Linked DNA regions of Homo sapiens: region 2 is linked to region 1. The links come from fine-mapping of genetic effects on gene expression. Tissue or cell type: monocytes after R848. Region 1 holds a variant in brackets; the other region holds the start of a gene. All regions are shown on one strand. Distances are from middle to middle.

Evidence for each region. PIP is the estimated chance that this variant, and not a neighbour inherited with it, causes the effect.
Region 2: it holds the start of TTC32, and the variant in region 1 is fine-mapped to the expression of TTC32 in monocytes after R848 (Quach 2016, PIP 0.91).

Annotation. Positions count from the first base shown.
Region 1 is chr2:19,779,480-19,787,583 of GRCh38, forward strand. No RefSeq gene overlaps it. Among named protein-coding and RNA genes, the nearest start is that of LINC00954, 85 kb to the right of the region's middle. RefSeq lists an enhancer at 6,667-7,866. The variant A/T (reference allele first, on the strand shown) is at 4,711.
Region 2 is chr2:19,897,765-19,905,868 of GRCh38, forward strand. TTC32 (tetratricopeptide repeat domain 32) reads right to left here and starts at 4,219. Exons shown (of 3, transcript NM_001008237.3): 1 at 3,942-4,219; 2 at 105-271. The coding sequence starts at 4,090. RefSeq lists enhancers at 3,180-4,061, 3,312-3,501, 3,642-3,701, 3,782-3,881, 4,062-4,942 and 1 more.

The DNA of each region.
Region 1 (8,104 bases):
GGAACAAAGCATCATTTGCAAAGAGAAGAGCAGCAAGAGAGGGGGTCAAAGAGGAGTCTGGACCACCAGAATGAAGCCTTGGAGGCCATAGCAAGGGCTGCACATTTTGTCCTCGTGCAAAGGGAAGCCAAAAAGGGACTCTACACAGAGAAGTTACATGACAATTTATTTATGTAACCATCAGTCTGGCTGCTTGGGGACGGTAGGTTGGATGGGGCTCTAAAATAGAATCAAGGAGATCAGTAAGTTGCAGAGAAGTTCGAGAGAGAGATGATGGCAGCTAGGCTAAGGTAGGGACCATAGTAAAGAAATGGATAAGTTTGAAAATATTTGAAGATAGCATCAACAGAATTGGTGATGAATGAGTATGAGGACAACCAAGGGGGAAGCAGGGAGGATGATGCCTCAGTTTTCCAGCGGAGTAGCTGGGCAATTAGAGATGCCATTTATTGAGACTGAGACTGAGGTGGAGCAGGTTTGAGAGAGAATAGCAAGTTCTTCCTTTGGAGCCTCTTAAGTTTGAGCCTGTGAGACTTCGAAGTGGAGATGCTAAGAAGGCAACTGTCATGCGAGTTTCAAATTCAGAAAATGGAAGAATTTAGGAGTTGCTGGCACATAGTTGGACCCTGGGGCATGGGACGCCTGTTCAAACTTTTGAGGTATTTGCCCAGTTCACAATCACCCAACCCCACAGCAACGCCTGCAGGTAGGAAGGCACAGCGCCACTGCTCTCAGCCCACACCTTTTCACTTTTGTCACCCTCTCCTTAAAGGCCTCCATTATTCCTTGTTACCCAGAAGATAAAGTCCAAATATCTTAGCCTGCAATTCAAGGCCTTCTGGGATCTGGCCTCCACCTTCCTTATCTCCCTATTGCCTTACATGTGTCTCTGCACCAGCAAACTGGCCTCTTGACTGTTCCTGACACACCAATCCCTTCCAGCCCGCACACCTTTGCTCACAGGGGCCCTTACCTGGGCTTCCCTCCTCCCTATTCTACAATCAAATACTACTCAGGGCAAAGAGGATTGGAAGTGCTGATCACAAACACAAGATATGGGATGAGCTTCAGTCTAGAGGAGGTTCCAGCAAAGGACAGGGCATCACACCCTGGGCCACCTCCGTGAGCACAGAAAGGATTCAAGGCAACATGACTCTCTTTACCCATCTGCTAAATGGAGCTGAATCAGGCTAGTTTTTCTAGGCAAAAAACAGGTCACAAAATGTCCAATTTTAAGATTATTCTCAATGTCTCTTTGCCAGGTTACCCTTATCTGAGCAAACAGAATTCATTTCCAAAATCAACTCTCCATAAATTGTATTTGGGAGAAACCCTTACATAACTTTAGATATAATTAAGGGGAAAACAGAAAATGGGGGTGGGTGGGCAAAACGGTATGGAGAAGCTGATTGTACCCATAGATTGAAAGGATTCTATTCATAGATTAAAAGCTGGCTTTTGGCCTTATTTAAAAAAAAAAATTCTTCCCATTAGGGTGCTTGAGATGCCTAGAGGTAGGGTCGGAGATAAATCTGGTACTTACCATGACAGGCTGTGGAAGGAGGATGCCAGCTGGCCCTATAGACAGATTCTGCTTCATGGCTTTAGGACCAGTAGTTGGGGAGCCCAAGGCAATGCCCATGGCAACAGATCACCTGTGCATTTAGGCAGTAGCTTTTCGTCCTTGTCTTTGGTGCTCACTGCCAGCTGGCATTACCTTCATGGGCTCTTCTTTCTGATGGGGACTGGAATGGAGGAGAGGGCTTCCCACAGGATAAAGTACTCTCTGCCTACCTCTCCAACTTCATATAGACCACTCTCTCCCTGGCCCCCAGAGCTCCAGCTGTTTAAATCTCTCAGTTTCTTGAACCCACCATGCCTGTTCTTGTCCAGGCACTTTTGCTCTGCTGTTCCCACTGCTGCAAAACACTCTGCCCCTTTTCTGGGCTCCCTGGTGATATGCTAGCCTTTCGTGACCTCCTGGATTAGGGTAGGGGTCCTCTTCAGTTCTCTGGCCTCACCCTACACCCTCACACCCTGCTTCTCACTCCTCCAGGCTGCTGACCTTGCCACACCTCAGGCTTATAGAGGGAAGACCTGTGTCTGCCTGGGGCACAGTGGCCTCCGTGGTGCCTAGACACGGTGATGCTTCCTGCATGTTTACTGATAAAGATGTGAAGGAGAGTGCAAACTGCACTCAGCTCTTCTCTCATTCTAAAGAGCCACAGGAAAAGGTCAAGGCTCTGAGATTAACCGGGTGAGCCTCAGAGGTCATTGGATATGTCAAGATCGAGAAGTAGAGGATTCTCACATGAGAAATGAGAGTCATGGAAGTTAGCTGCAAAACTGTGCAAACTTTTTGTACTAGCAGATTCAGTCTTCCCATCCAGAATGGAGGTGTCTTTGTGGTGGACTGTCTCTTCCTGCTAGTAACTCTCCCAGGGTATAGTAATGATATGGTTTGGCTGCGTCCCCACCCAAATCTTATCTTGAATTGTATTCCCATAATTCCCACATGTTGTGGGAGGGACCCAATGGGAGATAATTTGAATCATGGGGGCAGTTTCCCCCATATTGTTCTTGTGGTAGTGAATAAGTCTCACGAGATCTGATGGGTTTATCTGCGCTTTCTGCTTTTGCATCCTCCTCATTTTCTCTTGCTGCTGCCATGTAAGAAGTGCCTTTTGCCCCCCATCCCGCCATGATTCTGAGGCCTCCCCAGCCATGTGGAACTGTAAGTCCAATTAAACCTCTTTTTCTTTCCAGTCTCTAGTATGTCTTTATCAGAAGACATAAACAGACTAATACAGTAAATTGGTACCAGTAGAGTGGGGTGTGGCTGAAAAGATATCTGAAAATGTGGAAGCAACTTTGGAACTGAGTAACAGGCAGAGACTGGAAAAGTTTGGAGGGCTCAGAAGAAGACGTGAAAATGTGGGAAAGTTTTAAACTTCCTAGAGACTTGTTGAATGGCTTTGACAAAAATGCTGATAGTGATATGAACAATAAGGTCCAGGCTGAGGGGGTCTCAGATGGAGATGAGGAACTTCTTGGGAACTGTTAGCAAAGAGACTGATGGCATTTTTGCCCCTGCCCTAGAGATCTGTGGAACTTTGAACTTGAGAGAGATAATTTAGGGTACCTGGCAGAAGAAATTTCTAAGCAGTAAAGCATTCAAGAGATGACTTGGGTGCTGTTAAGAGCATTCAATTTTAAAAGGGAAACAGAGCATAAAAGTTTGGAAAATTTGCATCCTGACAATGCGATAGAAAAGAAAAATCCATTTTCTGAGGAGAGATTCAAGCCTGCTGCAGAAATTTGCTTAACGAGGAGCCCAATATTAATCCCCAAAACAATGGGGAAACTGTCTCCAGGGCATGTCAGAGGTCTTCAAGGCAGCCCCTCCCATCACAGGCACAGAGGCCTAGAAGAAAATAGTTTCCTGGGCCGGGCCCAGGGTCCCTTTGCTGTGTGCAGCTTAAGGACTTGGTTCCCTGTGTCACAGCTGCTCCAGCCATGGCTGAAAGGGGCCAACATAGAGCTCGGGCCATGACTTCAGAGGGTACAAGCCCCAAGCCTTGGCAGCTTCCAAGTGATGTCGAGCCTGCCAGTGCACAGAAGTAAAGAATTGGTGTTAGGGAACCTCTGCCAAGATTTCACAGGATGTATGAAAATACCTGGATGTCCAGGAAGAAGTTTGCTGCAGGGGTAGGGCTCTCATGGAGAACCTCTGCCAGGGCAGTGCAGGAGGGAAATGTGGGGTTGGAGCCCCCACACAGAGTCCTTACTGAGGCACCACCTAGTGGAGCTGTGAGAAGAGGACTACCATCCTCCAGACTCCAGAATGGTAGATCCACCTATAGCTTGCACCACGTGCCCAAAAAAGCCACAGACACTCAACACCAGCTCATAAAAGAAGCTGGGAGGGAGGCTGTACCACAGCGGCCGAGCTGCCCAAGACCATGGGAAACCACCTTTTGCATCAGCGTGACCTGGATGTGAGACATGGAGTCAGAGGAGATCATTTTGGAGTTTTAAGATATGACTGCCCCGCCCATCCCATTTGCCTCTGTTCTCTTTTTCCATTCTGCAGATGTTTGGAGTCAGATCACTGTCTTTGGAAGGCAGTGTTTGGAGGAAGAGCACTTGCCAAAAGACCTGGCTCTACTGCTGCAACGGGGAAGTCAGGCGCCTGCAAAGGGCTTGGTCAGGACAACAGCAGCTCACCTCCCTGGCATGGACTCCTAACAGGCCCCTCAGTATCAGTCAGATACAGCCCCAGCCATTTGCCTTCCCTGCCCCCACTGCCCCCACACCTTCCCTTGTCCCCATCACTACCCTGCCTGCTGAGAATGCTCACTCAAAATCCACCCCCACTGCAGGAAGCCTTCCCTGACCACTACCCTTCAAACACACACACACACACACACACACCATACACACATTATAAACACATACCACACACACACAACCCACACTACACATACCACACACACATATGGTATGTGGGGCCAGGGGCAAAATGATATGGTTCGGCTCTGTGTCCCCACCCAAATCTCATCTTGAATTGTACTCCCATAATTCCAACGTGTTGTGGGAGGGACCCAGTGGGAGATAATTTGAGTCATGGGGGCAGTACAAACACATACCACACACACACCCCACACTACAAACACATACCACACATACACCCCACACTACAAATACACA[A/T]CACACACACATCCCACACTACAAATACATACCACACACACACCCCATACACACACTACAAACACATACCACACACATACAACCCACACTACAAACACATACCACACACATACCCCATACACACAACACACACACTATACACATATACACACCACAGTCACATACCACACACGTTACATATACATACTACACACACTGTAAACACCATACACACATAACATGCCACACACATGCTACCCTACACACGCACACACATCCCTCCCACCAACCAGGCAACAGTGGCTTTCTTTTTCACAAAATCTGACTGCGTTGACTGCAGCTCTTCATGCAAAGCAACCAGAATAGTACCTGGCAAGTGTGGCCTTCTCCTTCCCCACCTGGGCCCTGAACATACCTGGTCTGTAGCCAGGGTTGCCCTACCTCTCCACAGAGCAAGAACCTGAAGGGTTTAGGTGGAGAGTGAGTCGACAGCCACATTCAGGTAACTGGGAAGATACCCAGGAGCGGGCTGGCCACACTCGGGGATGGTTTGAGGGTGATATGCAGATGACGCCACTCACCCCTGCAATGCTGCTTCACTCTTCAGAACCAGCACAGCCCAAACTGCTCAACAGTGTTTCATCCAAGCAAATGAGAGGCAGATTCCTTAATAAAGAAACAAAACAAAAGAGACCCACGCACTGAGAGTAGGAGGCTGGTTCTGACCTGACTCTGCCATGAACTCCCCGAATGACCTTGGACCAATCACTTGAGCTGCCCAGACCTCAGTTTACACTATATGTAAAAGAGGAATCGTTTTTCCCGGGGCCCTCTCACAGGATGGCTGTGATTACCCATGGAACAAGCAACAACTAAGGGCTTGCAAAGTTAAAGTGCCAGACAAAAAAGTCTCCCTGGTAGAGGTTGCAACTTCCTCAACCCCTGAGAGGTGACAAGGTAGATATCAGCAATTGGACTTACCTCCCAATCTAAGTCCAGGCATATGGCTTCCCCAATGCCATAAAGGGAAAGACAGGAAATTACTTTTTCCCTGAGGGTGCTGAACTAGGCAGATAGCCAGCCTATTGTTATTCAATGTCAGAGTCAAAAATCCTGAGAGACCTCGATACCCCTCACAACAGTGTCAAAACTGGAACAATCTTAACACACACACACACACACACACACACACACACACACAAAACTTTCACTTTCATCATCCCCGGGCATCCCACTCAGGGCATAAAGCACGCCTGGGAACAAGAATCACAGGTTTCCTACCTCGCTGGAGACTTCACAATGACCCAGGGCCCCTAAGAGTTCCAAATATAGTCCAGGCTCCCAGAGCCAAGGCAGTGACTGGCCAGAGCCTCCCCATTTAGGGGTACTGACCTGAGTGCCATCTACCCGTCAAAGTGCTTGAGCCACAACAACAACCCCTGAACGTGAGGCTGATTAAAGAGGGTTACGTGAACTGCCGAATTAAGCCGTCCAAAATTGGATAAAGTGATTGTGAAATCTGTTTTGAGTCAACCTATACATGTCTCATTGCAGGAAAATGTCTCGGTAAGAGTTCATGGAGAAAAAGTCTGGCAACTCATTGTTGGCTGACCTTCCTGGGCTCCTAATATTCAGTTCCCCAAAAGGCATCTTAGCCATGTAATTTCCAATATGGGAACAATTTGAGTTGCAATTAGGCAAATCTCAGAAGGTTCTGCCACTGATTTGTTCATTCTCTCAATATTATTCTATAGGACACACTAAAATACTGCACCAGGTTCACGCAGAGGACAATTAGGACTGCTGCATGTCAGGTTACAGAGGCTGGGTAAACACATCCATGTCGCCATTCAGGAATGGTGTCGTTAGGCCTGCAGAGCTGGGCACAGGGCCCTCTGCCCCAAAGGACACCTACTAATGGCTCTGTGGGGGACAGAGGCTGTTAGCAACCCAGAGCTTTGGGCTGTGGTGATGGCAGGTCCAGAGCAAGTGGAGAGGGGGTCAGGGTAGCTAGCAGCCGGAATGCAACCCTGGAGATTGTAGATGAAGGAAAGCTAACAGACAACCCCTGGCAGTAACATTAGATTTTGTTAAAAGCTACATCTTTCACTGAGCACCTCCTCTGTGTCAGGCTCAAGCCAGGGCCCAGGGACACTGAGATGAAAAAGACATAGCTCTTGACCTCAAGAAGCCCAGTGGGAGGGCATATCAGCAAGCCCAATTATGATAAAAGATAAATTACAATCAAGATACTATTTTCAAAAGTGCCAAGAAAGCACAGAAAAGGAAGAGTTTGATTCGCCTGCAGTGTAAGAATAAGCTTCCCATCGAAGGGCATATTTGAGCAAGCCTTGATGCATGGCTAAGAGTAGGGCAGGTAGAGAGGAGAGAAATGGCCATTTTAGAGGAGAATGCTTGGTTGGGATGAGTTGGCACTTTCTGAGCCATGAGTGCCTCCCAAGGACTGAGTCATGTTCCTCTTTTTCAGTAAGCAAAAACTGCTAGTCTTCAGTTTATCTCAGGCCTGCCTCCAGGGAGAAGAAACTGTCATTCCAGTCCCCTTTGAGGCATATTTGGGTTTCCCCGGACTCCTGTTATGATTTGCTCTTTGTCCCCAGGTGGCTAGTTTACTCCCAGCGAAGAGGAATGTCTGGATTCTCCTCTAAGCCCTTTGCACAAAGTGCAGAAGCTGTCTCATCCCTTCCTGACCAAGCACATGACTCCGACCAGATTCTGCTAGAATTCAAGCATAGGTGAGGGCAAAGCCAGCCTTGACTGGGGACCTGCAGAGCAAGGCCTGAGTCAGGTTTATCTTTGTTTTTCCTTTGCCCCCACACCTACTCAGGCCCAGCTCTCAGGATCAAGTGTGTGGGTGAGTGAAGAAGCCCAAGTCAATAGCCGGGCAGTGCCTGGATGGTTAAGGGAGCACTCAAATCTCAACCTTGGGATCTGGTTAAGGGGCCGAATCACAAGCAGGAGAGAGGGGAAAAATGGGGCAATTAGTCTCAGGAACGAAAGGCAGAGGTAAGTTGTGTCAGGGCCACGTGTGGAGTGAGATTCAGGGACCATATAGGTCTGGAAGCCAGGAAGGAGAGTGGGTCGCCACCGGGCAAACCCAGCTTCCCAGAGCAAGAGAACCTTAGGAAGCATGCAGGGCGACTGCGGAGGCAGAATCAACAACTCAGCATGGCTCCGCGTGGTGGGCATCCTGCTAAAAACCACCTTCCGATCACAGTGGGAGTCGATTTGCACTTTGTAAACAGAGTTCCCTTCCCTGACACAGGAGTACCCCTTCCTCCATGAATTTCCTTTGGCATCTTCCTGCAGGTGACATGGATAGGCAGCTGCCACTTTCCACCCACGAAGAAACCCTGAGGATGAAAACTACCCAGGAACACTGCATGACAACTGCAGC
Region 2 (8,104 bases), 120 kb after region 1:
AGAACTTTAAAATTTGATTACCACGTTAGTTTTACAACATTTGAAAGCTCTGAAATAACAGAATACAGTCAATGACAAAACTCAAAAAGAAAAAAAATTCTTACCCAGCCTATACAGTATCAACCCTCTGTTGTAATATGGAACTTCAAAATTGGGTTGGACTTCTATGGCAGATGTGTAGTCATCCATGGCTTCATAAAAATCAACCCTGAAGTACTTGATTTGCCCCCTGTTGTTATATGCAGTAGCCAAATCCTCAGGGCTGCATTTGCTTTAAACAAAAAGTTCACATTAAAAACACCGTGTTACCAAATTCCTCTCATTTCCACTTTCATTCTCTTTTGGGTATTGTCAAACTTCACAGCCTATAACATGCAGCATCAACACTGAAAATCCAAGCTGAAGAAAAAACGTACAAATAAAGAGCTAAAATCAATTTTTGTTTAACCCTGTTATCTACTTTTGTAGGGTTATACCACTGCAATGTCAACCTGAAAAGCATACTAACTTTACAGTGTGTTCACTGCCAATTTGTTCTGCTGAATATAACATTAAAATGATTGTTCATTTTTCTAAGCACACACCAGCAGGGCAAAGAAGACAGAACAGATAAATACTAAGCAAAGAGGGAAAGCCAGCCCAAAGCCCGAGTTTGCTATGGATATGTCACAATGTGAATCAATTTCATTCTCAAATTTTTAAGTGATCTTAAAACAATAAGATTTGAAATCATTTTCCACCAATAAAAAACTAAAGTTAACGCTAAGTGAAAATTCAACATGCTACGATCCCCAGGAAGTTATCTCTGGGGACAGAGTTGCCCTCCCTCCAGCCTCAGCTGGCATCCTCCCCAATGCCAGGCTGGCTTCCTGCTAGGAGGGTGGGCTCCTTTAGACCCCCTCAGGGCTCCAGTCAATTTTGATGTCCTTTGTGCAGAACTGGCTCTGCACCTGAGGGAACTAGAGGTTGCCCAAAGAGCTTTAAATTAGCAGCCATTCCTGGGCTGTACAGCCAGGTAGCTCTGACCAGCCACCAGCTCAACAGGTCACAGCCCCTGGCTGCCTTGAACCTTTCTCTGCACAGGACAAATAGTCTGCACAGAGAACATTAGTGCCTCTGCTCTGAGTCAGGGATGATTCTGTTTCCCTTTCTTTTTTCCCAAAGCAATTCTCAAATTAGAACCAAACAGAGAATTCATCTGTCACTTCTTTGTAATACCCCGTAGTAAAAAGTATAGTCCTCCGAAAGTATCTGTGAAGGCAGTTAGTGTAAATAAAAGCTACTTCTCTTAATATCTTGATCCTTGAGATTTCAGACAGGGACTGTAACTACTGCTACCCTAAGAGGCACTCACAGCCCAAGGGCCTCCTTCAAACCAAGTTTGCTAACGATGGAGAGGAACTGTCGCAATTTTAGAAAACGTCTATTCTATGAGCTGTGATGGAGACTGGATGTAGGGATACTTCTGGATGCCACTAAGCACCCCCGTTAAAACCTAGATTACAAGACGGTACCACTCCCCTTCACCTATGTGTGACATGACACTAGTTGAACTGCTCCCAGTAGAGAGTTTAAAGAAAAAAGCAATCTCAGGATGCCAGTAAGGTTTTAGTCATTAAATCGAAGTTTCAAAATTATTGTTATAAGTTTTTAATACTAATTATATATTCGTAATATAGAGAATCATAAAATGTTAGACTTAGAATTAGATCTCATTAAATCAAATTCTAAAATCGTTTTCATGTGGAAATTTTGTTTCATATTTTAAAGAAATGGACTAACAGTTGAAGCCGAAATTTTCTGTAATATTAAAATTTTTGTAATGATAGTATTTATTATAATGGAATTCATTCAAGTTACCTAACCCAAATGTGAATTTTTAGGATTTGCTAACTTTCGCAAAAAAAAATATTTTTTATATATATATAAAGTGTGTGTATATATATTTTTTATATATAAAGTGTGTGTATATATATACACACACACTTTGGAAATTAGGTTTATGACTAAAGCTATACTTTAGATATTAAAAGAAAACGTCACAAACCATTCAGAATGAAAGGCATTCAAAAATTGCAAATATTGTTTCAAAATGATTTAGTGACCCAATACTTAGAAAATAAATGTAAGCTCCAAAAGATAAATTGAAGGGAAAAAGTTGAAATGACAGAATTCAGTTTCAATCCTTGAGTTCCTAGAATTTTATCAAAAGCTTATTTTACAGATGAAAAACTGAGGCTGAGACATTAGCCATGTGGCAGTGCCAAGACTGGAATTCAGGCATGATGAACTCCCTTCTACTGCGCTATGACAAACTGTCTTTCCTGTGCTGGTAAGGCATAGCTATTATATATGCTACAGACACTTGTGTTCTTAGGCTGAGAGGTGCAAAGAAGGAAGAATAACAAGACTAGACAGCAACAGCATACCTGATGCTGATAAATACTTTTTAAAATCTACTAGGTAAGTCTACTCTTAGAGCTTGAAACATGAATAGTTTCGCTTTCTATGTTTACTTATCTTTTTTATGGGGGAGGTGCACTGAGGAAAGTAGATGGTATCATCTTATTGCCTGTTCAGAAACTTCTATTATTATTCTTGTGTGTTATTGAAATGAGAAGGCAATTTTCTTTCTGGTTTAATTCCATGTAGCGTAACAAACAGGGTAAGAATCAAGTCCTTAGTGTTTAGTTAAGCCTCATACAAAAGACAAGCTGGCATCCTGTCCAGAAAACTCAAATCCACAACAGACAACTCACAACTATTCAAAAAGCTGTTCAACCAACCCCTCTGTTCTTTTCTCATCCTGATCCACTCCATACCATCAACAAGCCCAGTCGAGGCAAGACTTGGAGTAAAAACAAATGCTACACATCCAGGCACAAGCCGAAAAGATGCTTTGGGCAAGCAGACAGTAACAGGTGAAGCCGCTCACATCACAAAGAGAAAGTCAGCGAATCGTTATGTGCTTCCTGGTGAAAGTACACACACCCACCTAAAAAGTATTCTTGCCATGATATTGAATCTGAATTCAATTGGATCAAACCTCAAGGTTTAACCACCAATTCACAGCAATATGAGACAGATGACCACATTAAACGACAGAAGAGATTCAGTCAGCAAGTCCAAAACACGGAAATTCAAAGGACACAAGAATCGGTTTCCTCAACAAATAAAGAGGGGAAGGTGGAGAAGAGACTTAAAAAGACTTGATGTGTATCCTGACTTGAACTAACTGCGAAAAGGGAACCAAAGAACAAAACACCTTATTAGTCGATCAGAATGGTTCCAACACTGACGACTTGATATTAAGTAACTATGTGATGATGACATGGTGGTTCCTTCTGAAACATCCATGGATGAATACAATAGGTAAACTGATAATGCTTAAGCCAAGTGATAAACACCTAGACGTTCGTTATGCTCTCTTCCACATATTTAAACGTTTTTCACAAGTGAAAAACACCACCAAGAGCCTGCGCCGTGACACTGAGATGGGAGTCGCGGTACTGTGGCCCTACGCAGCCGTGACCCCTTCCCTTCCCAGGTCGCGGATTTCCCGCCAGCTAAAATCACGAGTGGAAAATTCCTATCTGTCCTAAGTCTCTGGGTGCGAATGAGGAACGTGGAAGGAGAGACGGCGGGGTGAGAGGCGGCGGCCCGCGCCCGAGGATCGCGCAGAGGGCTTGGTTCCCGGAAATCTCTCCGCACCGTCGCGGCAGCTGGCTCCTCACGGGTGGGCTTCTCCCCGCGTTCTCCGCCGCCCTCGTCCTAGGCCTCGCCTAGGCCTTTCTAGAAAGACGAACGTCCGCCCGCTCAGTCCTAGTGCTGGGTTATGACAAGCGCCGACCGTGAGCTCCAGAGGCAAAGATAGGAGCCCAAACAACCCCAACGTCGCCTCCACCCGGGGTCGCCGCGGCCCCAGGTCTCGCGATAGTTACCTCCCGGGACTCTCGTCGCTGGAGGCCGCGCAAGCGCACCGGCGAATGTAAGCGGAGTACAGTGCCTCGGCCTCCGCGTACTCTCCATTGTTGAAATGAGCCTGGGCGAGTGTTAGGGTTGCGTGGCTTTCTTGCCGCTGTCCTTCCATAGCAGCCAAGGCCTAGTTTTCGGTGTAGAATGGGGGTTGACCTCCGAGCGGTTAGAGGTGGCACCACAAAGCCACTTCCACACCCTGGAATCTACCTTGACAGCCAACCTTGGCGCTAGGTTTGTGCCTTATGGGGATCCGTCGTCTCGCGAGATAACGGTTCCGCTGCTGGCGGGGCGTTTGCAGTGGCCCTTGTGAACTATGTTTCTGCCGTTACCAGTGTTGGACCCGCCTTCCTCTTTTCCTAGAAAAGGCGCAGATGCGTGGTCGCAAACTGATTTCCAAGTCCGTTGTCTGATGCTGCGAGACACTATCCGTTTGTTACAGCGAATTGGGGGCCGATGACGCTGGAGGTGGAAGAAGCCGCGGTTCTGTTTCTTAATGGCGAATTAGCCTGCGGACGTCCTGTCATTCCCTTGCCTTTTAGCGTCCCAACTTAGCAAAACTCCGCGTTTAGGGTGTTCTGAGTAGGCTTTGTCTACCCTGAAACGCTTTGTGTCGACATTCCACCAGGTCTGTTCCACGGTCCAAACTTCTCTACCTTTTTTGACCCTCTAGAATTGTGTTACGATTAGTAGTATATTGTGTCGAGAGTCTGGGATCTTTGATGTTAGTTATATTCCCTGGCTGTTTATGCCAAAGGGAAATCCAAATAGTAATTTATTACGTACATTACGTATAATTCAAATTAAAATTTTGTAAGAACAGTTGCCAACCACGCTACCCTACATGCCTGCTGTGTATCTTCTCGGCGTCCCTCGATTCTGTTTTGCTTCCCAAAGTACTTGAGCCCTTTCCGTCATAAAAAGTAAAGATGAAAAATATATTTGGAGCATGATACTTACATGCGGAAGTCTTAACAGGACATAAATTGTGTGCTTTTGGCTGCTTTCATTAGATTTTTAATTTTTTCCTTTTACCACCACTGAAAAAAATACAAATACAGTGGATTAAGGTTAAATTAAAAAGCACTAGTAGAAATTAAAAGATTGCAAGACTACAAAAAAATAAACTGGCATTTCTGGTGTAAGCAAATGGACAGCTCAATAGAACAAAAGCCCAGAAACATACCTCAAATAGGCTGTATTTTGTAAAAGACATGTAACATATATGGGGAAAGGACAGATTATTCAAATGAGTGCTATTGGGAGGATTAGTTAACCATTTGGGGAAAAATACATTTAAGCATTTAAGCTCCCAATTGACATAATATTCATTCCAGGTGAATTAAAAGATTAAATAAATAAGATAAAAAGCTTTTTTTTTTCAGTTCCCATTTATTTTTGCCTCTTGGAGCAATGTCATCTTTTCAATATGAAAAAAACAAAACAAAAAACAAATCTGAAGTACAGGATAGAACAAAACCAAGTGTGTTGGGGGAAGCAACAGCAAAGGGAAGACAAGATGTTGCAAAAAAAAAAATGGAGGGGGGATTCCCCTCTCCTCTGGGGAATGACTCAAACACTGATGTGGCAGCGTACACTATTCTACATAAAGCCAGGGATGTTAATCCTTTTGGGGGATAAGAAAAAGTGGAGATGGCCAGGCTCTGTGGCTCATGCCTGTAATCCCAGCACTTTGGGAGGCCTAGGCGGGCAGATCACCTGAGGACAGGAGTTTGATAACAGCCTGGCCAACATGGCAAAACCCCGTCTCTACTAAAAATGCAAAAAATTAGCTGGGCGTGGTGGCGGGTGCCTGTAATCCCAGCTACTCATGAGGCTGAGGCACAAGAATCCCTTCTGGGTGGAAGTGGTTGGCAGTGAGCTAATTTTTGTATTTTTTGTGGTGATGGGTTTCCCCATGTTGTCCAGGCTGATCTCCAACTCCTGGGTTCAAGACATCTGCCCACCTCAGCCTCCCAAAGTGCTAGGACTACAGGCATGAGCCACCGCACCTGACTAGAAGTTTTGCTTTGTTCTGTTCAAGGAATAACAGGAATATTTATGTGTCTAAAAACCAGTGATCTAAGAGGAAAATAGCAGGATATGTAATGGAAATTGGGGATTTGGGAAGGGGGTTTCTAAATAGGAGTAAGATTCTTAACCTTTTTTGTGCTATGGCACCTTTACAAGTGTGGTGAAGCCTATGTCGTTTCAATGTTTTCAAGTGTTTTTAAAACATAGGATTACAAAGGAAAGGAATTATATTAAAAAACAGTTGGAATATTAACAGATTTATTAAAAAGTAAAACATTTATTAACATTAAATATCAAGAACAAATGGCAAACACAAAACTAGCAGAGGAAGAAAATAATAAAAGATCAAAACACAGATAAAACAAAAATGGAATCAACAAAACCAAAAGTTGGTTCTTAAAAAGATTAAAAAAGTTAATAAAACTTGAGCTAAATTGACTACGAAAAAGGAAAAGACTCAGATTACTAAAATCAGAAATGAAAATGGGAACATTACCATCAATTCTACAGAAATAAAGAGGATTATAAGAGAGTACTATGAACAATTGTATGCTGAAAAATGGGAGTAACTACATGAAATGAGCAAATGCCTAGAAACAAAAAACCTACGAAGATTGTATCATGAAGAAATAGAAAATATGAATAGACGTGTGTATTAGTCTGTTCTCACACTGCTAATAAAGACGTACCCAAGACTGGGTAATTTTTTTGTTTTTAAGAAAAAAGAGGTTTAATGGACTCACAGTTCCACGTGGATGGGGAGGCCTTATAATCATGGCAGAAGGCAAACAGCACGTCTTACATGGCAGCAGGCAAGAGAGAATGAGAGAACAGTGAAGGGGGAAATCCCTTATAAAACCATAAGATTTTGTGAGACTTAGTCACTACCATGAGAACAGTATGGGGGAAACTGCCCCCATGATTCAGTTTTTTCTCCCACCGGCTCCCTCCCACAACATGTGGGAATTATGGGAGCTACAATTCAAGATGAGATTTGGGTGAGGACACACACAAACCATATCAACCTGTAACTTGTAAGGAGATTCAATCAGTAATCTAAAAATAACCTCTTGACAAAGAAAAGCCCTGGACCTGATGGCTTCACTGATGAATTCTACTAAATGTTTAAGGAAGAACCAACACCAGTCCTTCTTAAGATTCCATTTAAAAAATGGTTATAACTAATGAATTCAGCAAGGTAGGAGGATATGAAATCAACATGCAAAAATCAGTTGCATTTTTATTCACTAACAATGAAGCTATCCAAAAATGAAATTAAGAAAACAATTCCAGCCAGGCACAGTGGCTCACACCTGTAATCCCAACATTTTTGGAGGCCAAGGTGGATGGATCACTTGAGGTCAGGAGTTCGAGACCAGCCTGGCCAACATGGCAAAACCCTGTATCTACGAAAAATACAAAATTTAGCCAGGTGTGGTGGCAGGCACCTGTAATCCCAGTTACTCAGGGGGTGAGGCAGGAGACTCACTTGAACCTGGGAAGTGGAGGTTGCAGGGAGCCAAGATTGTGCCTTGCACCACTGCACTCCAGCCTGGGCAACAGAGCAAGACTCTGTCTCAAAAAAAAAAAAAAGAAAGAAAAGAAAACAATTCCATCTACAGTAACATCAAAAAGAAAAAAATATTTAGGAATTAATCAAGAAAGTAAAAGATGTGTACAATTAAAACTATAAAACATTGCTAAAAGAAATTGAAGAAGACATAAATGGAAAGACATCTCATGTACATGGATTAGAAGACTTAATATTGTTTAGATGTTAATATTATATAAATCAATCTTCAGATTCTATGGAATCCTTATCAAAATCCCAATGATGTTTCTGCAGAAATAGAAAACTCCATCCTCAAATTCATATGGAATTACAAGGACTCCCAAATAGCCAAAACAATTTTGGAAAAAGAACAAAGTTTAAGGACTCACTTCCTGATTTCAAAACTTACTGCAAAGCTGCATTACCCAAAACAAGTGTGTTATTGGCATAAAGACAGTTTTTTAAACAAATGGTGCTAGGAAAATTGGATATCCACTACAAAAGAATGAAGCTGGTCTCTTACACCATATACAAAAATTAAAA